Homo sapiens: one gene and its partners. The protein of the gene in region 2 purifies or fractionates together with the protein of the main gene of each other region. This does not show direct contact. Each region holds a gene or a part of one and is shown on either strand. Other genes may lie near its edges.

The links. The genes of interacting proteins can lie anywhere in the genome.
Region 1: the proteins of MAP3K21 (region 2) and RASAL2 purify together in Homo sapiens (affinity purification with mass spectrometry, with the first as the bait; one large-scale study listed by BioGRID). This does not show direct contact.
Region 3: the proteins of MAP3K21 (region 2) and INPP5E purify together in Homo sapiens (affinity purification with mass spectrometry, with the first as the bait; one large-scale study listed by BioGRID). This does not show direct contact.
Region 4: the proteins of MAP3K21 (region 2) and AGAP1 purify together in Homo sapiens (affinity purification with mass spectrometry, with the first as the bait; one large-scale study listed by BioGRID). This does not show direct contact.

Annotation. Positions count from the first base shown.
Region 1 is NC_000001.11:178,097,104-178,100,603, reverse strand, and holds part of RASAL2 (ras GTPase-activating protein nGAP), read right to left. Parts: intron 1-3,500. UniProt on the Homo sapiens protein: Inhibitory regulator of the Ras-cyclic AMP pathway.
Region 2 is NC_000001.11:233,376,224-233,379,723, reverse strand, and holds part of MAP3K21 (mitogen-activated protein kinase kinase kinase 21), read right to left. Parts: intron 3,295-3,500; coding exon 3,197-3,294; intron 794-3,196; coding exon 14-793; intron 1-13. UniProt on the Homo sapiens protein: Negative regulator of TLR4 signaling. Does not activate JNK1/MAPK8 pathway, p38/MAPK14, nor ERK2/MAPK1 pathways.
Region 3 is NC_000009.12:136,429,846-136,433,345, forward strand, and holds part of INPP5E (phosphatidylinositol polyphosphate 5-phosphatase type IV), read right to left. Parts: intron 3,435-3,500; coding exon 3,310-3,434; intron 3,231-3,309; coding exon 3,111-3,230; intron 2,742-3,110; coding exon 2,634-2,741; exon of another isoform or gene 2,471-2,633; intron 2,141-2,470; coding exon 1,979-2,140; intron 1,273-1,978; coding exon 1,157-1,272; intron 569-1,156; coding exon 432-568; intron 1-431. UniProt on the Homo sapiens protein: Phosphatidylinositol (PtdIns) phosphatase that specifically hydrolyzes the 5-phosphate of phosphatidylinositol-3,4,5-trisphosphate (PtdIns(3,4,5)P3), phosphatidylinositol 4,5-bisphosphate (PtdIns(4,5)P2) and phosphatidylinositol 3,5-bisphosphate (PtdIns(3,5)P2).
Region 4 is NC_000002.12:236,129,668-236,132,293, reverse strand, and holds the end of AGAP1 (arf-GAP with GTPase, ANK repeat and PH domain-containing protein 1), read right to left. Parts: 3' UTR 501-2,626; downstream 1-500. UniProt on the Homo sapiens protein: GTPase-activating protein for ARF1 and, to a lesser extent, ARF5. Directly and specifically regulates the adapter protein 3 (AP-3)-dependent trafficking of proteins in the endosomal-lysosomal system.

The DNA of each region.
Region 1 (3,500 bases), about 55 Mb from region 2:
TTTTTCTTAGCAAACCACAGAAATTTCACTCACTATAGTAGGAAACACAACTGTACAACTTTTTTTTTTTTTTTTTATTTGAGACTGAGTCTCGCTCTGTTGCCCAGGCTGGAGTGCAGTGGCACGATCTCAGCTAGCTGCAACCTCTCCCTCCTGGGCTCAAGCGATTCTCGTGCCTCAGCATCCCGAGTAGCTGGGATTACAGATGTGCCACCATGCCCTGCTAATTTTTTTTTTTTTTTGTATTTATAGTAGAGACAAGGTTTCACCATGTTGGCCAGGCTGGTCTCAAACTCCTTACCTCAGGTGATCCGCCCACCTTGGCCTCCTAAAGTGCTGGAATTATGGGCATAAGCCACCGCGCCCGGCCCATTTTTAAAAATGTGTTCAGTAAATGTTATTATCTGAAAAAGATAAAGGATATCCACACAAACTATTCTTAAAGAGGGGTGTTCTAGAACTTTGTATTATTTATGTCTGAAGATTTGTACAGATCCTCAATTCCATATCTGCAATTCCTAAATCAAAAAAGCTCTGAAAAGCAAAAGACTGTATGCAACTTTTCTGGCAGTAAAGTCTGACCTGCACTGACATAAGGCTATTTATAGTCTTTATACCACTTGGTATGATTTTGTTTTTTTTTTGAGATAGTCTCACTCTGTCACCCAGGCTGCAGTGCAACGGTGGAATCACAGCTCACTGCAATCTCCCCCTCCCTGGTTCAAGCGATTCTCCTGCCTCAGCCTCCCAAGTAGCTGGGATTACAGGTGCATGCCACCACACCCGGCTAATTTCTTTGTACTTTAGTAGAAACGGGGTTTCACCATGTTGGCCAGGCTGGTCTTGAACTCCTGACCTCAAGTGATCCACCTGCCTCGGCCTCCCAAAGTGCTGGGATTACAGGCGTGAGCCACCACGCCCGGCCTATTCACTTGTTTAACTGCAGAAATATTAACATAACTGTCTAGTCCAAATGGTTTTGGAAAAGAGATTGTGGATGTATAATTCTATTCCTTAAAAATATTTTCACTGTTTGAAAATCAAATAGCAGTGAACCAACATGATAGAGGGTAGAACAATACTAAGATGTTATAAATGAAACTATCACCTACATTAATAGAGCACACAATTTAAATAAGACATACAAATTTTCTCTCAAAAGAAGAAAAAAGGGGGCTATTTAAAGTCACTTAAACAGTACATGCCTAGGCATTCTTAGAAGTTCTCTCTGATTTCAATGAAAAACTGTCTATTCTTAATGTGTTTTAATGTATTTGGAAATCATTGGAAACTAATACATCAACAAGCCTATGCCACATCCTAAGTATTGAACTCAAGCTTAAGATTCCAAAAATTTCTAAAATATGACTACTCAGGTGTAAAGATTCAATTAACAGTACCTGAGGAAATTAAGACATTTAAGGAACATGAACATGTTTGGGGATGTATTTTATACACACTCACTGATTTTCTTCTAGCCATACTAGTTGCAACATTTTAAATAAATTTAGAGACATAACCTCTAGAAACGTAACTTTTAAAAATCTCATCCTGTGTCTTAATTGGTGAGGCGTAAGCAGTATCATATAATACAACCAGATATGACTTCTGTCTCATCAGCTCATATTCACTTCTTGAATATGAACTTCTATTAATTCTTACCGAATTCCCACTGCCACATTTCTGGAATTATAAGGTACTTAATGAAGTATGATTAATTCCCTTTTTCTTCTGTTTGCTTAAATAGTACTAGCCCTTTGAAATTTTCCAGCAGGTCCCTATGTTGTTATCAATAAACAATGAGCTGTATACAAGCTTAATGGTAATAATGTTGATGCTATTCATTTTCTTAACAGAATATTTTACCTAATTCCTTCTGATAATATTAAAATTTAAAAGTACAAGATTTCTTGTTGATCCCTTTCTTGTGCTGATTATATTTCCCTTCTAACTCTCCAAGAGCATATCTGAGCACATACTTGCAGACCTGTCATACTGATGAGTGCAGAGCTCCACCGCAGGCAATCCTAGAGATTGGGATCTTAAATTTCTCCCAGAGTGTCCTACACTCCCCATCCATTCATGGTAAAGTATTTAATTTTAATGTTCTCATTGTTTACCAGAAAGCACAGACAGTGAGGCTGGCTTTGCCACTCCCGTTTCCTTTCGCTATGCTGCTGAGCTTTTTCAGCCAATTGACTTTGCTTTGAGGCTATAAATATCTGAAAAATGTTCTGCATTTGATGCTCTTGGATTCTGTATCCATATTTAGCTGTTTGTGGCATGCCTTTGTTTAAGCTACTCTACCACCCATACAGTCAGTCAGGTTGAGATCTGGATGGTCAAAGGACAAACGGATCAACATACAACAGACACTGACTTACTATGAGCAAGGTACCAATCTGGCAGACAAGTTGACAATGAAGGGGGTGGCAAGATAAGAATACAAAGATAAACAAGGCTCCCTGATATCAAAAATTTTATAGTCTTGACAAGGCATGGGCACAACTTATAATACTGGAATAAAACAAATGAAACATTTTACAACTACAAGGAAATGAAGATTAGGACAGACAGCACAAATATTTTTCTCTCAGCCACATCTCAAAAATGTGCATTAGTTTGTGTTCTAAATATAGAGCCACCTATTATAAAGCTCTGAACATATTCCAGAAAAGTTTTCCAAATCATGGCAATACACAAAACCCTGAGTATACGTATTATGACAATATATACATATGTACACAATATATATGTATTATCAACCAAGGAGCCAAACCTGTCAACAAGAAACTCAAAACAGTGCCTAGTCTTCAAATTTTGTGAGGCAAACTAATAAAATATTGTTTCTAGAAGTTCCTGTTAAGATATTCTTTGGGGGGTTACTTCTGTTGTTGTTTGTTCCCATCATGATTTCAAACAGAAGTATATTGCAGGAGATGCAAATTGCACTTAATAAAGTTCCTTATTATTATCCTACCTTTAGAACCCACATGGCTATGTAGGTTAGGTCTCAAAACTGGATGAACTAGACCTAAGCAACATCGCCATACTCATCTTCCTATCTTGTGAAAACATTCCAAATAAATAAACATCTGCCTTCAATATATCTTCTTTGAAAACTCAGTTCACTGACCTTTTGATAAAACTGCTCCCCAGAATTCCCTGACAATCATGATTTAAATGCATTAAGTTAAGGGCTTGGTTAATGCCTGGCCCCAAGAGCCAGGATAAAGATTATAGGCCAACCTGCAGGTAAAATAATGGGCCAAGCCACAGAATCAGACAACTTTAAAGCTAAAAGGGACCACAGATACCAATTACTCCAGATTCCACTTTTATGCTGAAACCTAGAGGCCATGAGTTAAAACTACCTGCCCAGAATTAGACAACCAACTTGTGGCAAAGCCAGAATGAAACCAATACTCTAAGCTTCTAGTTGTATCCTCTAGACTAGGTTCCCAATTTGTAGATTTCCCTGAAACATGTTAGACTACACT
Region 2 (3,500 bases):
TAATGCAACCTACTTGGGGTCGGATTTCCATCAGACATGGTCCGTCTGTGATGTGACGGTCTATGTTTTGAAGAAGCACAGTAAGGTACATTCCCACATGTCTGCTGTAGGAAGGAAGACGGCAAGTTTCTTGATACACTACAATCAGTGTCAAGTCTTGGCATGAGGGCTGGCTCACGACCACTTCCTGGGGCAGTGGGACAAAAATCCGGAGTGAGCATCTCAGAGTCACAAGTGACAGGTGCACTGTCCACCAGTGGATCTTCACTGTCCATCTGCAGCAGGCACTTTGTGGAGAAAGAAGGTGTGGAGAGGATGCCCAGGGCACTTGACAGTGGCAGGGAGGGTGGGCTGCTGGCCTCCCCACAGGTGGATGGCAGGCTTGTGGGAGGACTGGCGCTTCTGCGGGACTTGGAAGCCCGCTGGAAGATTCCCTCTCGTTTCTTCTTCTCTTCCTTGGGCAACGGTTCTTCAGCAGCCTGTGCTTTATGAAGCTCTCTGAGGTCCAGTCCCAGAGCCACCGATGCCAGAAGGACGGTGCACCCATACAGAGCTGACTCCGTTTTCTTTCTCTGGGGGGATCTACTCAGACTATTCGTAGGAGTCATCTCAATGGAGACTGTGGCAGCATTCGCAGAGGCTGCCTCCTCCCAGCTTTCAGCTTCTGCAGGATTCTCTCTCTGAGCATCTTTCCCAAGAGGTAGATCAATGTAGGCCTGACTAGGCAATTTTATTTGTTTTGGTTTTCTGTGTTCTAATCCATCAGGGGAAAGTTTTGGCTCTTCACAGGACCCTAAATAAAGGTATAAGTACATACACTGTAGTATCATTTTACAGCAAAAGTCATTTAAACAAGATTGTAAAATAAAGCTAAAATATAATAAATACATATTTTAAATCAAAACACATGCAGCCCTTTTCATTTCTGCAAATGATTCATCCAGGAGGGCTCCATGGAGCAAGAGTCTAGGGCCCTACAACTTCAGGTTCCCTGCAGATGAACCAGCAAGCTAGCCATCTGCTGTTTCCTATGCTTCGGGAAGCTGTTCTTCATCAGCTTCAATAATAGACACTATTGTAGAAACAGTCATCAAAACACAAAAACGCACAACCATAGGCACAAAATCACTAAATATGTCACCAAATGTGCTCTTTTCCTCACTTCACCTAAATACATGCATCAGGCTCCATTATCTACAGCTTTCCTGTGTATAAACTAACTGTTCTGTAGCAGATCAGCAGTTCTCAAAGTGTGTGGCCTGGACTGGCAGCATCTGCATCCCCTGGGAATTTGTAGAAATGTAAATTATTGGCCCACCCCAGACTATGGAATCAGAAATTCTGAAGAGTGGAGTCCAGCAGTCTGTGTTTCAGCTAGCCTTTACTGAAGTTTGGGGACCATTAAAATAGAAGATTCTCCCAAGAGGTTACAGAATCCCAAAGGTTACAAATTATACCCGCTTAAGAGGAAGCTAACATTCTTATCACAAAAGTGACAGCGCATAATTAAACAACAAACTCATTAATCTGATTTCCAAATAACATCTCTAATTTTTTCCAACACTACATCCTAGTATACCTAAACATGCTTGATGATCTAGACCAGGGGTCCCTGAACCCCAGGCCATGGACTGATACCGTGGCCTGTTAGGAACCAGGCTGCACAGCAGGAAGTGAGCAGCAGGTGGGCGAGTGAAGCTTCTTTTGCATTTACAGCCAGTGCCCATTGCTCACATTACCACCTGAGCTCCGCCCTGTGTCAGTTCAGCAGAAGCATTAGATTCTCATAGGAGCATGAACCCCATTGTGAACTGCACATACAAGGGATCTAGGTTGCTCCTTATGAGAATCTAGGATCTGATGATCTGTTGCTGTCTCCCATCACTCCCAGATGGGACCATCTAGTTGTAGGAAAACAAGCTCAGGGCTCCCACTGATTCTACATTATGGTGAGTTGTAGAATTATTTCATTATGAATTACAATGTAATAATAATAAAGTGCACAACAAATGTAATGCGCTTGGATCATCCTGAAACCATCCCTACCCCACTGGTCCATGGAAAAACTGTCTTCCATGAAACTGGTCTCTGGTGCCATAAAGGTTGGGGACTGCTGATGTAGACAATTTGGGGTGCCAGCTTTCTTTCTCCAAAGAACCCTGTGCTCTTCCCTGTGGTGCCTTTTGTTTGGGGTACCCTCTTTTTCCTTCCACTCCCTGACGTTGCTGACCCAAGCTCCCTTTTCCTTCATAAAGGAGAACCTTCAGAAGGAGAAGCTGAACCCAGGTAGTGAGTGCAAAGGTGCTTGTGAAATTGAGCACAGTACCAATAACAAATTCAATACATTTACATTGTGTCTTGCTAAGGCATCTTTAATTTGATCAAAGTACCAAAGAGTCTGCCTAAATGGTCAAGTATAAAGACCAATTTTATTTTCTGTGTTAGTAACCGTGCTTGAAGTTTTTCAACGATTTCCATCTCTTCAATCTTTTAATACTGAATACTGAATACAAATATAGAATATTGAAAGTAAATCATTATGATTCATTTAAATTAAATAGAAATTCCAGTGTAAAACTCTCCAAGGAGTCATTTTTCTTATTTATTTATTTATTTATTTATCTAGAGATAGAGTCTCATTCACTCTATTGTCCAGGCTGGCATGCAGTGGCACAATCTTGGCTCACTGCCACCTCTGGCTCCCAGGTGCAAGTGATTCTCTTGCCTCAGCCTCCTGAGTAGCTGGGATTACAAGCAAGCACCACCATGCCGGCTAGTTTTTGTGTTTTTCATAGTTAACCTGTTTCATTGGATTTCCTCATGTCAACAGGTGGCACTATAGCAAGAAGCCATACCCCTTAATCTCAGCAGAACTTTCAGGGGGGTCTATATTTTTACATCTAATATTTCCCATACTAAATTGATTTGGTTTTACATAATTAATTGTGATAATAATGTTTCTGGTAAGGAAGAAGAGTTACAAATTCCCAAAACCACGTGAAGCCTAATTACTTCCTGCCATAAATACTTGACGGAAAATAACTTCTGAATTTAAGTAAAGCTATAAGAAATGCCATTACTTGCTAATCTCCCCTCTGCTACTTTAATGACCACGTAAGACTGTAAAAGCAAAGCTTCAGCACAATCAGATGCCAAGGACTGCTCAAGCAAATCCTACCTCCTGAAACACATTTACCTGGCTGGTCCACAAACAATGAAGCCAAGGGCATGGTTTTCTGATTTTTTATTAAGATAGTTGACCAAGGACTGTTGCCATCGGAGAGAGGTCTTATCCTACAAGAGAAAAATGTTTCTTTTCATAAGATAGAAGCACACAACACACCAATTAGGTTTTGGTGGATACAGACCAACAATATTTTTAAGGTAGTAAAGAGAACACATTTGTACTCAGTTTTGAAGGGCTGACAAAGTACAAATAATACCTGAAAGTGAGACAGGAAAAATCTCAGAAATATTCTAACTGCTTAACTAAATAATAG
Region 3 (3,500 bases), on a different chromosome or scaffold from region 2:
CCAGGAGGAGGGGGCGTTAGGAGGGGGCCGGCCCCGGAGGAGGGGGCATTTAAGAGGACACCCAGGGCCAGGATGAGGGGCTGTTAGGTGGGCACTGGCCCAGATTGGCCCTGCCTCTAAGCACACGGAGGCCTGTTCCTGGGACAGAGCCGCAGGAAGGACAGGGCGGATGCCTGAGTGCTTAAGGCCTTCGTCCCTCCAGCTGGCCACACCCAGCCCCCCAGCTGGGCCTCTCTTCACTTTCCAGAGCCTCTCCCCTTCCTGCCTTCTCCTGCTCCAGGATGAGTCCAACCGATCCCGGGGAACACAGCCCTGAAGGTCCCAGAACAAAGCCCCAAGTGGAACCCCACGATGACAGGGACCCTCTTAGCTCATGGGACGACGGCACGACCCCCAGGCCCAAGGGGGAAGGTGAGCGGGAGAACACTGACTTGTCTCGCCCCGGCCTCACTTTCACCCGGAAGAGGCCATACACAGGGCGGTGGTCGGACGTCTTGATCCCGGGGCAGGAAGAGTAGCTCACAGGACAGATGTCACCCTTGTGGCGGCTTCTGTACAAGACGCGGTCCTTTGGGAAGATTGCAGAGGCAGGAGGTCCAGTTACTTGTGAGGAGCCGTGGGGCGTGGCCCGCTCACCTCCCTGCTGTTCTCAAGCGCCCCCCACAAGGAAGCCTTCTGGGACCCCTGACACTCATGCCCATTTTGTTGCCTGGCGTCTGTGGCCAGCTGGGCCAGGGCCTGTCCCTCGCCGCTGGAGAGACCCTGTGGACAGCGGCTGCTCCTACCCTGCCCTGCCTCAGTGGCTTCTTGAGGCTTCCAGCAGATATCCAGATATCGGGACATGCCCAGAGATGCAGCCATGGGCCTGGCAGGAGGGTGAGCGAGGGTGCAACGGGCAGAGGGCAGAGGCTCTGCAGGCCGGAGGCGAGGGCATGGCTGGTGCCCTGTGTGCCAGCCGGCTCACCCAGCCTTGAAAACACCCATGGAGAGGGCGCCGTTCTCCACCAAAGGGGACTTGCCACAAGGCCAAGGTGCAGAGCTGAGTTTCAAGTCCAGGCCGTCCAGGCTCAGACCCCTGACGCCAGGCATCGGTTCCCGGCTGTGGGAGATGCCTGCCCTGGAAGCACTCTGCACCGCAGCGGTGGGCAGGCCTCACCGTGTATGAGGGCGTCCTCTGCTTGGAGGTGCTGTCGTACGTGTCCTTCCCGATGTCAAACTTGTATGATGGGAGGAAGTGGATGTCCGGCTCCTGGAAGCCCTTGAAGATGGACCCTGCCACAGGATGGGCACTCGGACTGGCTCAGACCAGCTTGTGCCAGCCGCCGCACCCCAGGCCCTCACCTCTCCTCATCTCCCACCACGCCCACCCTCCCCCCACCCGCCGCAGGCCCTCACCTTTCCTCATCTCCCGCCACGCCCGCCCCCCCAGGCCCTCACCTCTCCTCATCTCCCTCCACGCCCGCCCCCCAGGCCCTCACCTCTCCTCATCTCCCTCCACGCCCGCCCCCCAGGCCCTCACCTCTCCTCATCTCCCTCCACGCCCGCCCCCCCAGGCCCTCACCTCTCCTCATCTCCCTCCACGCCCGCCCCCCCAGGCCCTCACCTCTCCTCATCTCCCTCCACGCCCGCCCCCCAGGCCCTCACCTTTCCTCATCTCCCTCCACGCCCGCCCCCCCAGGCCCTCACCTTTCCTCATCTCCCGCCACGCCCGCCCCCCCAGGCCCTCACCTTTCCTCATCTCCCTCCACGCCCGCCCCCCCAGGCCCTCACCTCTCCTCATCTCCCTCCACGCCCGCCCCCCCAGGCCCTCACCTCTCCTCATCTCCCTCCACGCCCGCCCCCCAGGCCCTCACCTTTCCTCATCTCCCTCCACGCCCGCCCCCCAGGCCCTCACCTCTCCTCATCTCCCTCCACGCCCGCCCCCCCAGGCCCTCACCTCTCCTCATCTCCCTCCATGCCCGCCCCCCCAGGCCCTCACCTTTCCGCATCTCCCGGATGAGCTGGTCGTGCTGCAGCAGCGCCGGCACGTCCACCACCAGGCCCTGGCACAGGAGGGCGTCCACGACTGTGCGCCCGCCACTCAGGCGGAAGTTGAAGTCTCCAAACCAGAACACCTCATCGAAGCGGGTGGTGACGTCCGCTGCGGCACAGTGGGCCATGTGTGGGCACAGGCAGAGGGACGGCAGGTCCTTCCCCTTCCCCAGAACATGGCCTGGGAGTGGCTCTCAGGGGAAGTGGGTCTTGGGCGCCAGCCGGTGGGGCCGGGCCCTCAGGGGTGGGATTCGCACTGGGACAGTTCCAGAAGGCACCTGGAGCAGCCTCAGGAGCAGACGATGCCCATGGCAGGCGATGGCCACGTCCCTGCTCCTCTCCACACAGCCAGGGGAGGCGGCGGGGCGGGCAGTGGCGAGGACCAGGACCCAGGCTAGTGGGCCACGCCGAGTGGACAGGATCCGCCCACCCCACTAACCGTGCTAAAGAACCGCGAGGGGCCATGCGCTGGGGGCACTGGACGTTTCGGCCCTCGCTTCCCAAAGCTCAGGACGCTGCCTCTTCAGAACTGCCCTAAAAACGACGGGCGCCCGTGTGCGAACCACGGCGGCACCACCCACACGCAGCGTGGACGCCCTCACCTGCGCTGGAGCGATAGGGGTTGGTGTCGGGCACATTTCTGGGCAGGACCAGGGCTTGTACAGTCCTGGTGTAGTCCAGCAGCCGCTCCGCCACCTTCCCGTCACCTGCTGTGGGAACAGAAATGGGGTAGGGACCACAGGGTTCCGGATGCTCGAGTCTCCCTAAAGCGCCGCACCTCTGGACTGTGCCCTGACTGCGCACCCCCGGCAGACGCAACCCCACCGGGCATCCGCTGCCGGGCCCAGCCAGTGACATTTCCGCCTCGGAGGACAGAGCACGGGCCCAGCACGGCACGCCCTCGGTGCCGGGGTCTGCCGGGGGTCCTTGGCGTGCATCTTAGCAAGCGTGGTGCCCACCCCACGGCCCTGGGTGGAAGATGAAGCCAGCGGTCAGGACCCCTGCCTTGGACAGGGTCCCGGTCAGGAGAGGAAGCTGTTCTCACACAGCACCTGCGGTGCGGGCACCAAGCAACTTACAGGTGAAGTGGGACGTGATGAAGAGGAAGGAAGTGCCAAAAAAGGTGAAGCTGATGCCCAAGGCCCCCTTGGTCTTGATCTGAGACACGATGCGTGTGGTCACCGTGGAGCACTCCACCTCTGTGGGAGGGGCAGCCCTCAGCTCACCTGTGGGACGCTGCCACCTTCCAGCCGCGCCCACCCCTCCAGCCGCGCCCACCTGAGCAGAACCAGATGAGGTCCCTGCGGATGAAGAGCGACATGTAGAGCACGCCGTGGGCCGCCGAGGACAGCAGCACATAGTGCGGGCCCAGCGTCTCCTGCAGACGAGTCTCCCACTCCCGCCTGCAGAGGAGGAAGCACGGCCGGCTGGGGGACATGGCCTCCCAGCTCCGCCACCCCCAGACCTGC
Region 4 (2,626 bases), on a different chromosome or scaffold from region 2:
TTCTCATTTTTTTTTTTTGGAGGGGAAGATATAATGTAGTTTGTAGGCAAAAATTACAGTAATATTAATGATAATAACGGTCTTAATAATAGAGTCCTGGGATGGTTCTACTGCTAGCCACCTGCTGGGAATAGTTCTTACGACACACCTGGGGCAGTGTGGCACAGTGCAAAGATACAGAAGCATCTGGAAGTTCTGGGCCCAGTCAACCCTGGCTGGGCAAAGAACATTCTCTTGGAGTTTCTGTCCTTGTAAAGGAAGAAGTCAGAAGAGACACTCCTGGTCTCTTTCTTCATTCCGTCTGTGAACTCGTGTGCTGAGTCCCTCGGGCCTGGGGCAGCCTGGGCCTGGGGCAATCCCTGCCCGCAGCAGACAGAGCCCCTTTTCTCTCTGATTTACCTTTCCTGGGCTTAGAAACACAATTAGTTGTGACAAATGACCAACGCCACCAAAAAAAAAAAAAACAAAAAACAAAAAACAACAACTCCACGGAAGCGGTGTAGACATATTTTCATTTCTTTATTAGAAAGAGGTCTCTACACCATAGCCACCTCTCTCTGTTACTTTACACATCTTTCTTTTTCTTTTTCCCTTAGAATACTGTACAGCGGACACAAAAAAATCCCAAGGCAGGAAAATACAAACTGGCATATTTAATCAAAACAAGATCATATGAAATAACAAGCAAAGTGAAATGTCTGTCAATGGTTTTAATTACAGTACAAACAATATAAATAAAGCATCATTGAGTCATTGTGAAACATAAAGTTGCTGAATGAGGTAATAGAAAACATCCAAAAAAAAAACCTAAACCCATCTGTGGATACACCCACGCTGCCCTTCCATCTCTATACACTGCTATTTACAGAAACAGAAAACTGGCTGCAAGGTGGGTTGGCCTTCCCTGCCCCTGCCTAGAAATGCATCTCAGTTGTCACCTTTGAGCTGCTCCGGCTGCCCTTTAGGAAACGCACCCCTGTGGCAAGATGAGAACCAAATTCCAAGCTGGCAGAAGGGAAGAGCCAGTGCAGGAGACCTGCCCCCGGGACCCGTGCGACCCTCCCCTCTCCAGGCTGAGCTCAATAAGGGCCTCCCCAGCGCTCAGGTGCTCGGGGCTGAGAGGGGCTGCAGTCTGGAGAATTAGATGTATTTCAGACACAAAAACCCAGCCGTGGGAGGGAAACTGATGCTTTTCAAGTCTGCAAGAAGGAATTATTTCTAACGTTACAGTGCTGGTCCCTCTCCCCCCGTTCTTAACGCCACGAAGCAGCTTCTAAATGCACACTTTGCCACCCACCATGCAACTGCCCCACCCCTCTCCAGCCACCTGTGTACCCTCAAAACAGCCATGCTGAGAGCCCTGCTGGGACCCTTGGGGCTGGGTTGGGATGGGGGAGGTCCCTCGTGCCAACCTGAGCAGTGCGTGAGACCCACTCCCCAGACCAGCCCCTGGCTCACTCCCAACACCCTTGGAGCCTTCTCTGTTCTCCTACCCTGAGAACCCAGGCAGGAAATGCATTTGCCCAGGGACCTCCAGGAATGTCAGGGGACACCCCAGGGCTGTGGTATTGGGCAGGGGGCTGGGCTGCTTCCAGTGTCTGCATGAGGCCCATTAGGATTCCATGCACCTGGACTGTCCTTCCTCAAGTCCAAAGGCCCCTGACATCCTCATGCCCAGCTGCTGACCGAGTGGGCTTCCAGTGTCTTCTGTTTACCAAAGCTCTCCAAGCGGCTCAGACGTTAGCTTCCTGGGCCAGTGTAGACTGTTCAGCACCAGGGAGATGAGGGTTTAATTGGATTTAGGGGCAGCTGTTCCCAACAGCTGGTGTGTTAAGGGGGTTTGCTCCACTGGGAAGATTCCCCAACACACTCATGCCTTGTTTGGTTCCTTTCTTTCACCTGCATCTCAAGGCAAAGGCCATGCAATCCCCCCACGGGGCATTCTAGATCAGTCCGATGTGGACTTCGACAAGGAGTCTCTATCATATGGTTTCACCATCCTCAGGTTGGGGGAGTGCTCCCTACAGGTACCCTGTGCCAGGCCAAAATGAAAACCAAGCCCTGAGCCAGCCTCTCCTCACATTCATGAGGATATCCTGTTTGGGGCACATGGAGCGGCTGCCCAGCTTGGGCGTCCCAAGGTCGGATGCCACAGCTGCCTGCTGGTCTCACCTAGCAGCCTTAGGCCTGAGCTCTGGGGCTTTCAGAGCCCATGCAAGTCTCTGCTGGCCACTCTGGCCCCATCTGCCCACCTCCAGGCCCTGAGGCCCATCTGTAGAGGGTGAGGACCTCAGACAAGAACAGTTCTACCCAACAGGTGCAAAACCCCAAACCAAGTGCTGTCATTTTACACCAAAACCAGCATCTCATGGTGAAAGACAGTAAGAATGGGTTTTCAGATTTAGGTTTGCTTACCGCTGCTCTGGGGTGGGTGTTTACTACACTGGTGAACTTAAATACTTTCTCATACAACTCAAAGATTTAAAAAAGACTTGTTGGTTTCCCAGAATCCCTTTCCAGAATCACCTGCCAATGCGGACATGTGACGCGAAGAAAGCCGCAGACACACTGATTAAATGGGGGGGCCATTAATATTTCAACAGTCTATTTAAGGGCAGTATTTCTT